Homo sapiens: one gene and its partners. The protein of the gene in region 3 interacts with the protein of the main gene of each other region in a pairwise test. Each region holds a gene or a part of one and is shown on either strand. Other genes may lie near its edges. The genes, in order: HSF2BP, CLK2 and LUZP4.

What was found.
Region 1: the proteins of LUZP4 (region 3) and HSF2BP interact in binary tests that used the Homo sapiens proteins (3 or more experiments, as listed by UniProt).
Region 2: the proteins of LUZP4 (region 3) and CLK2 interact in binary tests that used the Homo sapiens proteins (3 or more experiments, as listed by UniProt).

The regions. Positions count from the first base shown.
Region 1 is NC_000021.9:43,652,833-43,656,550, forward strand, and holds part of HSF2BP (heat shock factor 2-binding protein), read right to left. Parts: intron 1-3,718. UniProt on the Homo sapiens protein: Meiotic recombination factor component of recombination bridges involved in meiotic double-strand break repair.
Region 2 is NC_000001.11:155,263,505-155,267,004, forward strand, and holds part of CLK2 (dual specificity protein kinase CLK2), read right to left. Parts: intron 3,392-3,500; coding exon 3,225-3,391; intron 2,451-3,224; coding exon 2,356-2,450; intron 1,271-2,355; coding exon 1,141-1,270; intron 1,047-1,140; coding exon 964-1,046; intron 797-963; coding exon 717-796; intron 537-716; coding exon 446-536; intron 205-445; coding exon of another isoform or gene 175-204; exon of another isoform or gene 152-174; intron 1-151. UniProt on the Homo sapiens protein: Dual specificity kinase acting on both serine/threonine and tyrosine-containing substrates. Phosphorylates serine- and arginine-rich (SR) proteins of the spliceosomal complex.
Region 3 is NC_000023.11:115,288,364-115,292,658, reverse strand, and holds the start of LUZP4 (leucine zipper protein 4), read right to left. Parts: upstream 2,945-4,295; 5' UTR 2,900-2,944; coding exon 2,809-2,899; intron 1-2,808. UniProt on the Homo sapiens protein: Export adapter involved in mRNA nuclear export in cancer cells. Binds and enhances the RNA-binding activity of the nuclear RNA export factor NXF1. Can restore mRNA export function in cells compromised by loss of mRNA export adapters.

The DNA of each region.
Region 1 (3,718 bases), on a different chromosome or scaffold from region 3:
AAACTAGAAAGAAGGGCATCAGGCCAGGCGCAGTGGCTCATAACTGTAATCCAGTGCTTTGGGAGGCCGAGGCGGGCAGATCACCTGAGGTCAGGAGTTCAAGACTAGTCTGGCCAACGTGGTGAAACCTGGTCTCTAACTAAAAATACAAAAATTAGCTGGCGTGGTGGCACACACCTGTAATCCCAGCTACTCGGGAGACTGAGGCAAGAGAATCGCTTGAACCCAGGGGGCAGAGGTTGCAGGGTTGCAGTGAGCTGAGATCATGCCACTGCACTCAAGCCTGGGCAACAGAGTGAGACTCGGAAGAAAGAGAGAAAGAGAGACACAGAGAGAGAGAGAGAGAGAAAAGGGAAAGGAAGGGAAGGGGAAGGGAAGGGAAGGGGAAGGGAAGGGAAGGGGAAGGGAAGGGGAGGGGAGGGGAGGGAAGGGAAGGGAGAAGGAAGGAAGAGAGAGAGAGAAAGAAAGAAGGGCATGCAGAGACAGTAGGGTGCTCCCTCAAGACCGAATAATCAGCCAGGGAGATAATGACAGACAAAATCAGGGGCCGAGATAATGACAGATAAAATCAGGGGCCCTGCACTCCCAACAGCTTATAAAGTAAAATGGAAATAAAACCATGTGTCTGAAGGAAGCATAGGGTACCATGACAACATTTCAAAGGAAGATTGATCATGTCGAGGTAGTCAGATTAGGCAGTGACTCTGAGCCGGGGCTGTGCCCAATAATATAAAGCCTTTTAAGCCGTAGTATGGTTTTGCTTAGGTTTTTGGATGATAATGAGTCTGGGTGGGGTTTTTAGGTTTTTGCTCTTTATCCTAAAAACAAAGAGAAGCGTCTGAAGACTTACGCAGGTGAATGGCATCATCAGATTGAACTGCCACAAACTACTCAGGCTACAGTGTGTCTGAGGGACTGGAGAGTGGCAGTGAGGAGACCGCCAGGAGGAGGCAGAACACAGCAGTGGAGACAGACGCAGGCTGATGATTCAGGATGCATCCATGAAGTAACACTCACAAGACTTACTAGCGGACAGGTTTCATGCGGAGTAGTGAGGAAGAGAGACAGGTAACAAGGAAGACTCCTGGGTCTCTAGTCTGGGTGTTGGTGCTCTGGGGAGACTGAGGCAGGCCAGTGTAAGACAGGGGCAGGGAACAGATAGCATGAGGCAGATATGACAACAGGAAGTAAAAATCAGCTTGCACCGAGAAAGCAAAAGTCTGTCCTGACTTCTGTCAGGCTGGAATAACAAACACAGATAAAGTCAGGTGCCAAGTTAACAGAAAATATCTCTCAAAGACAATGCAACTGTAAAGTGTCATAATGACCTCTTCTTTGAGTGACTGCTAACTTCTTATTCACTGAGAAGCCTTATTCTGTAAAATCCCAGACTCGCACAAATTTTGTTCTTTGAAATTATACAAGTAAGAAGATCCCACTCTTGCCTGCAGGATCTAAGTCACTGTGACACAGAAAAGAACCCTATTTCCAGCTACTGCAGAGCTTCAAGTAAGGGATTTCTAGAACAATGTTCCACGTCTATTTGAACGTTGTAGTTTTCAAGGAAACGGGACCTGGGTCCGCTTCGCAGTCAGACTTAATATTGGTCCCTTTAGACACAGTTCTATTTTGCTTCATTTATGCTTCACCTAATACCACTCTGTCTCCAAGTCCTACAACAACTCTATCCTCTTTTTTGTTGACATGCCCCACAGTTTCTCGGTGTTCTGGTATGGTCTTCCTCACTGCAAAGAGCCATAAACCTCACTCTGTCAGACTGTGGGTCTGTTCCTGGCGACCTTAGACTGATTAGGCTAGGGCAGACATTTAGAATTTGAAATAATCATGAAACAAGCAGGAAGAAATGCCAAGTCGGAGTCAGGCACAAGGCCGTGAGCTTGGAGAGTTCTGGGCTAGAGAGTAAATCCAGCAGCCACTGGCATCAAGACGGTAACTGAAGCTGTGAGTGTGCATGAGACTGCCTAGGGAGAAGCCATGGGGTGAGGCAATGAGCGGGGCCTAGGCCTGAGTCTCAAGCCCTATTGGAAGGCTGCAAAGCAGAGAAGGATAAATTTCAGCAAAGGGGAATAAGCAGGAATTGCCAGAGAGACTATGGGGAAAAAGGTGACTCTATAGCCTGGGAAAGGCCGGGACTATGAGATAAGATCTCCCAAAGGCAGACTGTGATCAAGTGACCACAGATTTGTTTGTGGCCCTCACTCGGTTTGATTTTGGCAGCGGGACTGATCACTAAAGACACTCATGTTAACTAACTCATGAGACCCTGATGTATTTTTTAGAATGCCAGTTTATTAATTTACAGTGAGAATATAACCAACCAGCAGGCTGCCATACGCTGCTACTGGTGTATGCCTATTTACCTTCCTTTCCTGAAGATAAATGCACAAGGAATGACTAATCTCAGAAAGTTGCTGGATGAGCATGAAATCAAAACTAGAGAAATTAGAAGTCAATGACCTGGCATTCTGGCAACCAATGACACGCCATGTATCTGGCAGAGTCCCAGTGGGAAAGAGAAATCAACCCAGATGTTGAGACTTTTCTGAAGGGACCACTTACAGAGGGGAGAGCAGAGATAACAGAACCACCAAGGGACAGCGAGGTACCCAGGGACTAGCAACAGCCCTACAGCCACAGGAGCAGGGGCAGTCCAGCAAGAGCTAGGACTACGGAAGAGGCCTCTAGACAGGAGTCTCTGTTGTGGAGGGATGCAGCTACTGCCACAAAACAGCAGCAAAGCAGGGAGGGAGCAGGAAGAAACACCCCAACCTCTCTCTCCACCCAGCAATGCCTTCCATTGGTGAGCCCCACTGGCAGCCAGCAAGGGAACCAGGAGAGCCCCATCTGTAGGGATCTACCTCCCAGAGCACACCACAGGGCAGAGAAGACTGGATCCAAGGACTTCGGAGAGAATATAAACAGGACAAGGTACGGTGGATGAGAACTGTCCCTTCTAACTGGATGTGGCTGGCCCACTGACCAGATACGTTTGCACATGCCAGAAACTCATATTCTCGGGGTGAGCTATCTTCTTGTCTGGACAAGTGCTACAGCTACCTGGGCCCCCTGGATGCACCTTTTCTAGAGGGCACACAGGGAGGGATAACAACCAAATGTCATGCAGTAAATTGGCCTTTACCGTCAAAGGCTGATTTAATCATGATTTGGCCTCAATCAAGCAAGTGCTGAGACAATCTCAGAGTATGTCCAGGAACTTCAATAGGCTCCTAAACTGGTATTCAACATAACAGCTCAGCTCAAATCTCAAAAGTCTGAATGGACACCAGAAAGCCTAAACTTCAATCAGTTCTAGATACTGGCTCACCCATCCACCTAAAGATAAGTGAACACACTTCCAGCTATCTCTACTGACAAGTAAACTCCATGCAAGGTTTCCATTTGGCAAGATCCTTAACTTACACAGTAAGTACTTAATTTTCAGAATAGAGCTTTTCAGTTATCAAAAGTATAAAATTCTTCTGCCAATGAAGAGAGAGAGAAAGAGAAGCTGTTAATAGATGCTCAGAAAACTGGCAACCAACTTATACCAACTTACATATGTCCAAGTCACTACACTGAGGAAACCTCCCTTTCTTAGGTCATCAGACTCTCCCAAATATCATCACAAGGACTGTAAGAGTACCTTAAAATTCGTTTACAATTATTTACCTAGGGTAAATCTGCTAGAACAAATTAC
Region 2 (3,500 bases), on a different chromosome or scaffold from region 3:
CCAATTTGAAGGCTACCTAACCACGACCACACCAGGACCAACGTTTCTGATATTATAGCTCAACCTACCTTCCCACTAGCACAATTACTCCATAATCTTTGAAAGTTCTTTCTACTTGTATATCCTTGTCAACTTCATGAATCTTCTTTAGTTCCTCATTAAAATGTAAGCTCTTCAAAGGTAGTTTATTCTTTTCTGTCTGACCTAAAGAATCCAGGACATTGCTTTGATCTCTGGTTGTCTCAAGGTTAGGCTGTCTAACCTCCTTCCCTCCACAAAACCACTCCCTCTTATGTTTCCTCTGTTGACCAAAGATGTCTTCTTTCAGCTTTCCTCCCCTCCTTTCCTAACCCTCTGCTTGTGAAGAGCATTCCAGGGGGCAAACCACCCTAAGAAGGAAGTGACTTCTGGACGGTGGGCACTATTTATCCCGAGCCCAGCTCACCCGCAGCGGTTTGCAGTTCTCACGAACATAGCGCCCAGCTGATGTGTTCTCATCCCAATCCAGGCGACCCCGGTAAAAATATTTCTGCTTTCTAGAGGGGAAGGGGAGGTTGAGGAATCAGAAGGTCACCCTTGTTACAATTCCCTTATTTCCCCATCTGAAAGTAACTGGGGGGAGAGGAGGTATCAAAGAAAAAAGAAAATGATGTGAAATAGACCAATTCTGTGGAGAGAAAAGGAAAAGAGTTAACTAGTGCCCCCTCAAGGTTCACCTTGTCTTTCGGATCATCCGGGAAGGGATAGGACCCAAGATCCTTTCCATCATGGCTAGATGCTCTCTGTTGTCATGGGTCTGGGAAACAAAAACAGAACTGAGCATGGGACTGAAAAGGGCATGCTAAGGATCAGCTGCCAGGAAGGCAGGCAATGTGGAGAACTGAGTAGGCAGGTCCTCAGCAGAAAACAAAGGAACCAGGTAGAAGAATGCCAGGCAGTCAAGTAAGACATCCCATCACTTACCTGGAAGAGGGTGAATCCCACATAGTATTCAAAGATGATGCAGCCTATACTCCACACATCACAAGGCTGTGACCAGCCCAACTCTGGGTGAGAATGGGAGGGAAAAGGTGTTATGAGGCTTAGGTGGCCCCACCCTCACATCATCTCACACACTTGGACAGCCTTGCCCTCCCTTACCAAGGATGACTTCTGGTGCTCGGTAATGGCGAGTGGAGACAATGGTGCTATGGTGCTCATGGTCAAAGGTGGCACTGCCAAAGTCTACCACCCGCACAGCTGTGCTCTTCACACTGCGCTCATCTCGCTTCTAGGAGCAGAGGAGAAAGAGGATGAACCTCTGCACCCAGACTGAGATTCCACCAGTATTCTCTACATTGCTTCTGAGCCTTAAAAAAGGTACTGTGATCTCCTGCCTGGCCTTACAAGCCCTGGGAAATTCCTGTTTTACAGCTTCCACCACATCCAGCATAATACTTTTAGAAGTAGGGGAGCAAAAGGATTAAGAAATGATTATAGAACAGCGTGCACATCTGTAAGCATCTGAAGACTACACTCAAGTGCCAGATATATAGTTATTCTGAAAACATGTAACATGTAGCAAATGGGTTTTTCTGAAAAAATGTAACATGTAGCAAATGGGTTTTTCTGAAAAAATGTAACATGTAGCAAAGGAGTTTCTCTAAAAATATGTAACATGTAGCAAAGGGGTCAAAGGAGGGAGAGCTTCTTTAGGTCTGAGATCTCCATTATCTCCAGTTAGTCAAAGGAGCCGAGCTTTCCTACCTCACAGAAATACACATCTCAAAAAAGAAGTCCGGGCCAGGCACTGTGGCTCACACCCGTAATCCCAGCATTCTGGGAGCCCGAGACAGGCAGATCACCTGAGGTTAGGGGTTCGAGACCAGCCTGGCCAACATGGCAAAACCCCATCTCTACTAAAAACACAAAAACTAGCCAGGCGTGGTGGCGGGTGCCTGTAATCCCAGCTACTCCAGAGGCTGAGGCAGGAGAATCACTTAAACCTGGGAGGTAGAGGTTGCAGTGAGCCGAGATTATGCCACTGCACATCAGTCTGGGCAACAGAGTGAGACTCTGTCTCAAATAAATAAATAAATAAATAAATAAATAAATAAATAAAGTCCAAACCAAGAACCTTAAAAACTTTCACTCTACTGGAAAGTTATCTGAAGTCCCCTGTACAAGTTATCTCCCAATTTAAGTCTTCTTAAGAGATTTCTCCCTTTCAACCTATTTAGTTTTACCCAGTTGGAGCCAGACAGGGAGAAAATGTGGGAGGACGAAATAAAAGGGAGAAAACAAAGGGCTCGGCAGAAGGCAAAGTGGTGCAGCTGCCTGCCCCCAGTAACCAAGGGCAGACCCTATCCATCTTACCTTCTCTAGGTTGTAGGTGAGCTCATAGTCTGAATTCACAAACAGAATATTTTCAGGCTTGAGGTCTGTATGTGTCAGCTTGTTATCATGGAGGACTGTAGGGGAGAAGGCCAGGTCAGGCTTGGTGCAGGTGGCCAGAGCTAACTGGTATCAGCTGACCCCAGGCCTGGTTACCTAGGGCAAAGCCAGTGAGGAGACAGGTCCAGAATCACTAGGGCTGCTTTCTGCTCTACGTCTAAATGGAATGCCTGGTCTAAGAAGCTCTGCTCTTTCTAATGTAAGATACATATGTAGCTCAACTGATGTAAAAAAAAAAAAGTTTGCTTTGAGTTGTAGTGTGTACACACTTTGACATGTGTCTAGCTGGCATTATGTTAACTCAATTCTGTGAAACTGTATTATTTTGATGACTCCAGAGGAATGATATATTTCTTTGAATTCCCCACCTTGCCCCTTAGCTGAACTACATACTCTGTGTTCCCATCTCCTTTGCTGTGAATGAACATCTCATCCCAGACAAATGTAAGCCTTTACCCTAAGGAGTGTATTTTTGTCTCTTTATGTTTGCTGTCTGACTGATGCTTTCCCAAGAAAGGGAGAAAGGAAAAGGGGAGGGTAATTAAGTGCTTTGATTCCAAAGGCTTTCTCTTCTAGCTGCTGCTAGGCTAGGTGTAGAGTAAGAGCAATCAGTGACGATAAAGACATCAGTCAAGGAGTTAAGTCAGAAGACGTTTCAAGATGACAGTAAATCAAAGAACTGCAGATAACAGACAGCTGACTGTTTAGGGGCTTCACCAGTGCACAACCGACAGAGAGATCCAATGAAGGGAGGGACTGCCCCAGAGTCCACTTCGGCCCACCCCACTCACACTTGACAGCCTGGCACAGCTGGAAGGCCATGTGGCGCACTTGGTGGATGGGGTAGGGCAGGTAGTTGTTGTCTTTGAGGAAATCGAAGGTGCTAAGGCCCAGAAGCTCAAAGGAGATACACATGTGGCCATGGTAGTCAAACCAGTCAAACATCTGGACACAGAGGCTGAGAAGAGAGATGGGGGAAGGGGGGTTGTCTGATGAGCTCCCATCTGCCCATCAGCCATCCAACAAGGAGGTACTTCATAGCTGTTGATTCCACATACTTGTGTAAA
Region 3 (4,295 bases):
AACATTTTGCTAGAAATTCCATCCAGAGCAATTAGTCAAGAAAAAGAATGAAAGGCAAGCAGATTAGAAAAAAGTAAATCTCTGTTCTCAGATATCATGATCTTGTATGCAGAAATTCCTAAAGATACACACACACACACGGAGATTAGCACTAATGAACACACTCAGCAAGGCTGCAGGATACAAGATCTATATGCAAAAATTAATTCTATGTACATATACCAGCAATGAACTATCCAAAAACGAAATTAAGAAAGCAATTCCACCAAGAAGAGCTTTCAATGGAGGAAAATTAGTCTTTTTAACAAGTAGTGTTGGAACAATTAGACATCAAAATGCAACAGAATGAAGTTGGCTCTTAACTCACCCCATATACAAGAATTAACTCAAAATGGATCACAGATGTAAATTTAAGAGTTAAAACTAGAAAACTCTCAGAAGGAAACAAGGGTATGATCTTCATGATCTTCTAGATTTGACACCAAAGCATGAACAACAACAAAAAACAGATAAATTGTATTTTATCAAATTCTGAAACTTCGGGACTTCAAAGGACACTATAAAGAAAGTTTAGGCCGGGTGAGGTGGCCCACGCCTGTAATCGCAGCACTGTGTGAGGCCGAGGTGGGTGTATCACTTGAGGTCAGGAGTTCCAAGACCAGCCTGACCTCTGCCTCCTGGGATTACAGGCATGAGCCATGGCGCCCCTCTTCATTTCATTACTTTTTTTTTTTTCTGAGATGAAGTCTCACTCTGGCACCCAGGCTGGAGTGCAGTGGGGCGATCTCAACTCACTGCAGCCTCCATCTCCCAGGTTCAAGCAATTCTCCTGCCTCAGCCTCCTGCATAGCTGGGACTACAGGCACGCAACACCATGCCCAGCTAATCTTTGTATTTTTAGTAGAGATGGGGTTTCACCATGTTGGCCAGGCTGGTCTCGAACTCCTGGCCTCAAGTGAGCCACCCACCTCAACCTCCCAAAGTGCTGGGATTACATGAATGAGCCACCAAGCCCAGCTGACCCTCTTCATTTCTATGGTACACTCTCCCTCCACTTATCCTGCCCCTTTTAAAGTTCAGCCCTCCCTGCTCTGCTCCCCTACCCTCATCTCTAAGGTGAACCCTCTTTCCACTGCTCCATCAATTTCTGAGGTCCACCCTCCTTGTTCCTGCTTCTCCTTGCTCCACTCCTGCGCTTCCACATTGAAGCTCAGCTCCCACTGCTCTGCCTCTCCCCCTCTCATTTCTAAAGTGGCCCTTGGCCAGGCGCAGTGGCTCAGGCCCACAATCCCATCATTTTGGGAGGCCGAGCCGGGAGGATTGCTTGAGGCCAGGAGTTCGAGACCAGCCTGGGCAACATAAGGAGACCCAATCTCTACAAAAATTTAAAAATTAGGTGGGCATGGTAGTGAGCACCTGTGGTTCCAGCTACTCGAGAGGCTGAGGTGGTAGGATCACTTGATTGAGCCTGAGAGCTTGAGGCCACAGTGAGCCGTGATCGTGCCACTACACTCCAACCCAGACAACAGTCCCTGACCTTATCTCAAAAATAACTAACTAGGCCGGGGGCGGTGGCTTATGCCTGTAATCCCAGGACTTTGGGAGGCCGAGAAGGGCGGATCACTTGAGACCAGGAGACCAGTCTGGGCAACATGGTGAAACCTCGCTCTACTAAAAAACAAAACAAAACAAAACAAAAAAACAAAAACCTAGACAGGTGTGGTGGCGCGTGCCTGTAGTCCCAGCTACTCTGTCGACTGAGGTGGGAGGATCGCTTGACCCCAGGGGGCGGAGGCTGCACTGAGCCAAGATGATGCCACTGCACACCTGCCTGAGAAACAGAGCAAGCACGTTTCACACACACACACACACCCCTAACTAAAGTAGCCCTTTTCTGTTTTGTCCTCCTTCCCCCATTTCTACAGTTTCCTTCTTCCGTGCTCTGATGCCCTTCTCCATTTCTAAAGTCAGCTTCCATCCTCTCTACTCAGCTCTGCTCACTCCCTATCTGGCTTGGAAAGTCTATTCCCTCCCCTCCTCCCCCATTTCTAAGATGGATAATAGCAGAGGAACTGGTCCAAGTAAAATCCACTTTTTCTGGGTTTGGTGCGAATGGAGGAGGTTAGGGGCCTTGATAAAGGAGTTCTTTTTTCTAAGGTTCCACTCTCCGTGTAGAGGTCTCAGGTTAGAGACTAGAGAGCGCCAGCAAAGAAAGGCTATCCAGAGCGAATAACCACCAGCCAACAAGCAAATAAATGGACCAACCACCCCTTCGAATAACCACCAGCCAACAAAGCAGATACACCAACCCACCAACAACTCCTAGCACTACCACGCCGGGATCCCTAGTAAAATAGCCTAAGGCTTGCTCCTCCGGGCCCTGGAATCTAGTGATTTATGACATCCGCTTGGACTGAGAAGAGCACTTGGCTCCATGTGTTTGAAGGAGGCCAGTAGTTAGGTATCAATTCTTAGGAGAGTAAAATACACGTTAATAGCGGTCTATTTTCTCCGCCTGCCCCTTTCAGCAATCCTTAATCCCCACGCGCTTCTGGTCAGCCTCCCTCAGTTCCCCACCTGAAAGGAGAGGGCTGGAGGTGAGGAGAAAAAGAGGAGAGGAGGGATAGGGGCCAAGTGGTCCCAGGGTTCGTCAGGGTGGGGCAGGTGCGGAGATGCCCTGAAGGGGAAGCCTCTCCTCGAACTGGTGTGTTCCTCCCGACGCCACTTCTAGTAAGCGCTATGCCGAGGTCTTGCGCTCAAGACCAGTGAGCCCAAACTAGTGGAGACTGGGATCCGAGATCTACATACCTAGAGACATATCTAGGAAGTTAACCTTTTTCCGACTGGGATGATTTGGCGGCACTTTTTCAGAAAGCGTTAGCTTCCGAAACGAAGCCATCTTCCCTGCATCATGGCGCCACACACTCCGAGGTAGGGCGCGTGTACCACCCCCTCACCGCGCAGGAGGAGCAGAGTGGTGGACTAACCTGATCCTCCAATCATAGCCTCTCCCTTCGGTGTTGCTAAGCCCCAAGGGGTGGAGCTTGGCGTTACCCCTCACCAAGTCTCCTATCAGGAGCTTGGCTCGCTAGAAGAAAAAAAAAGGAAAGACCCGCCCATCTCCCACCCGATACCCCTTTCTAAAAATATTCTCTCCACCTAGAGCACTATGTAGTTGGCTACAAGTTTCTAGTGTATGTGGTGTTCCGGCCCTTGCCTTTCACAGTTCCTAGGACCCATTTCTCCTCTTTGCTGTTGACATTCATGGCGAATAAAACCTTATAATCTTGACTTAATGGGCTGATGCTCTGCTTCTCTCAAATTCCAAGAGGGAGCACAAATTTAACATCTAGGGAGGATTCACAGGTTTGCAATGCCACACGCTTTCTTTTCTGTCTTTCTTTTCGTTTTTGTTTTTTGTTTTTTGTTTTTTTGAGACACAGTATCTCTTTGTCACCCAGGCTGGCGTGAAGTGGCGCCAACTCCGTTCACTGCAACCTCCGCCTCTGGGGTTCAAGCGATTCTCCCACGTCAGCCTCCCAAGTAGCTGAGATTACAGGAGCGCGCCACCACGCCTGGCTAATTTTTGTGTTTTTAGTAGAGATAGGGTTTCACCATGTTGGCCAGGCTGGTCTCCTGGGCTCAAGTGATCTACCCGTCTGTGCTACCCTCATACCACAGCGCCCACACTTTCCCTCCCTCCCTCTGTCCCTCCCTTCCTTCTTTCCTTCCTTCCTTCCTCCCTCCCTCCCTTCCTCCCTCCCACCCTCTCTTTCTTCTTCCTAACTTCTTTCTTTCCATCTGCCTTGGCATCCCTCCCTCACCGCACCTGGTTATTTCTTTTCCTTCCTTCCTTTCTTCCTTTCTTTCTTTTCTTTCTCTTTCTTTTCTTTCTTTCTTTCTTTTTCTCTTTCTTTCTTTTCCCTTTCTTTCTTTTTTTCTTTCTTTCTCTCTCTCTTTCTTCCTTCCTTCCTCTCTTTCTTTTCCTTCCTTCCTTCCTCCCTCCCTCCCTCCCTTCCTTCCTTCTTCCTAACTTCTCTCTTTCCACCCGCCTCGGCCTTCCTCCCTCACCACACCCGGCTATTCCCTTCCCTTCCCTCCCCTCCCCTCCCCTCCCCTTCCCTTCCCTTCTCTCCCTTGCTTCCTTGCTTCCTTCCTTCCTTTTTTCCTTCCTTCCTTCCTTTCTTTTTCTTTCTTTTCTTTCTTTTCTTTTTTCTTTCTTTCCTCGATCTGTTGCCAAGGTTGGCATGCCTTAACCTCCCAGGCTCCTCTTGGGCTGTAGAGATGGGGATCTC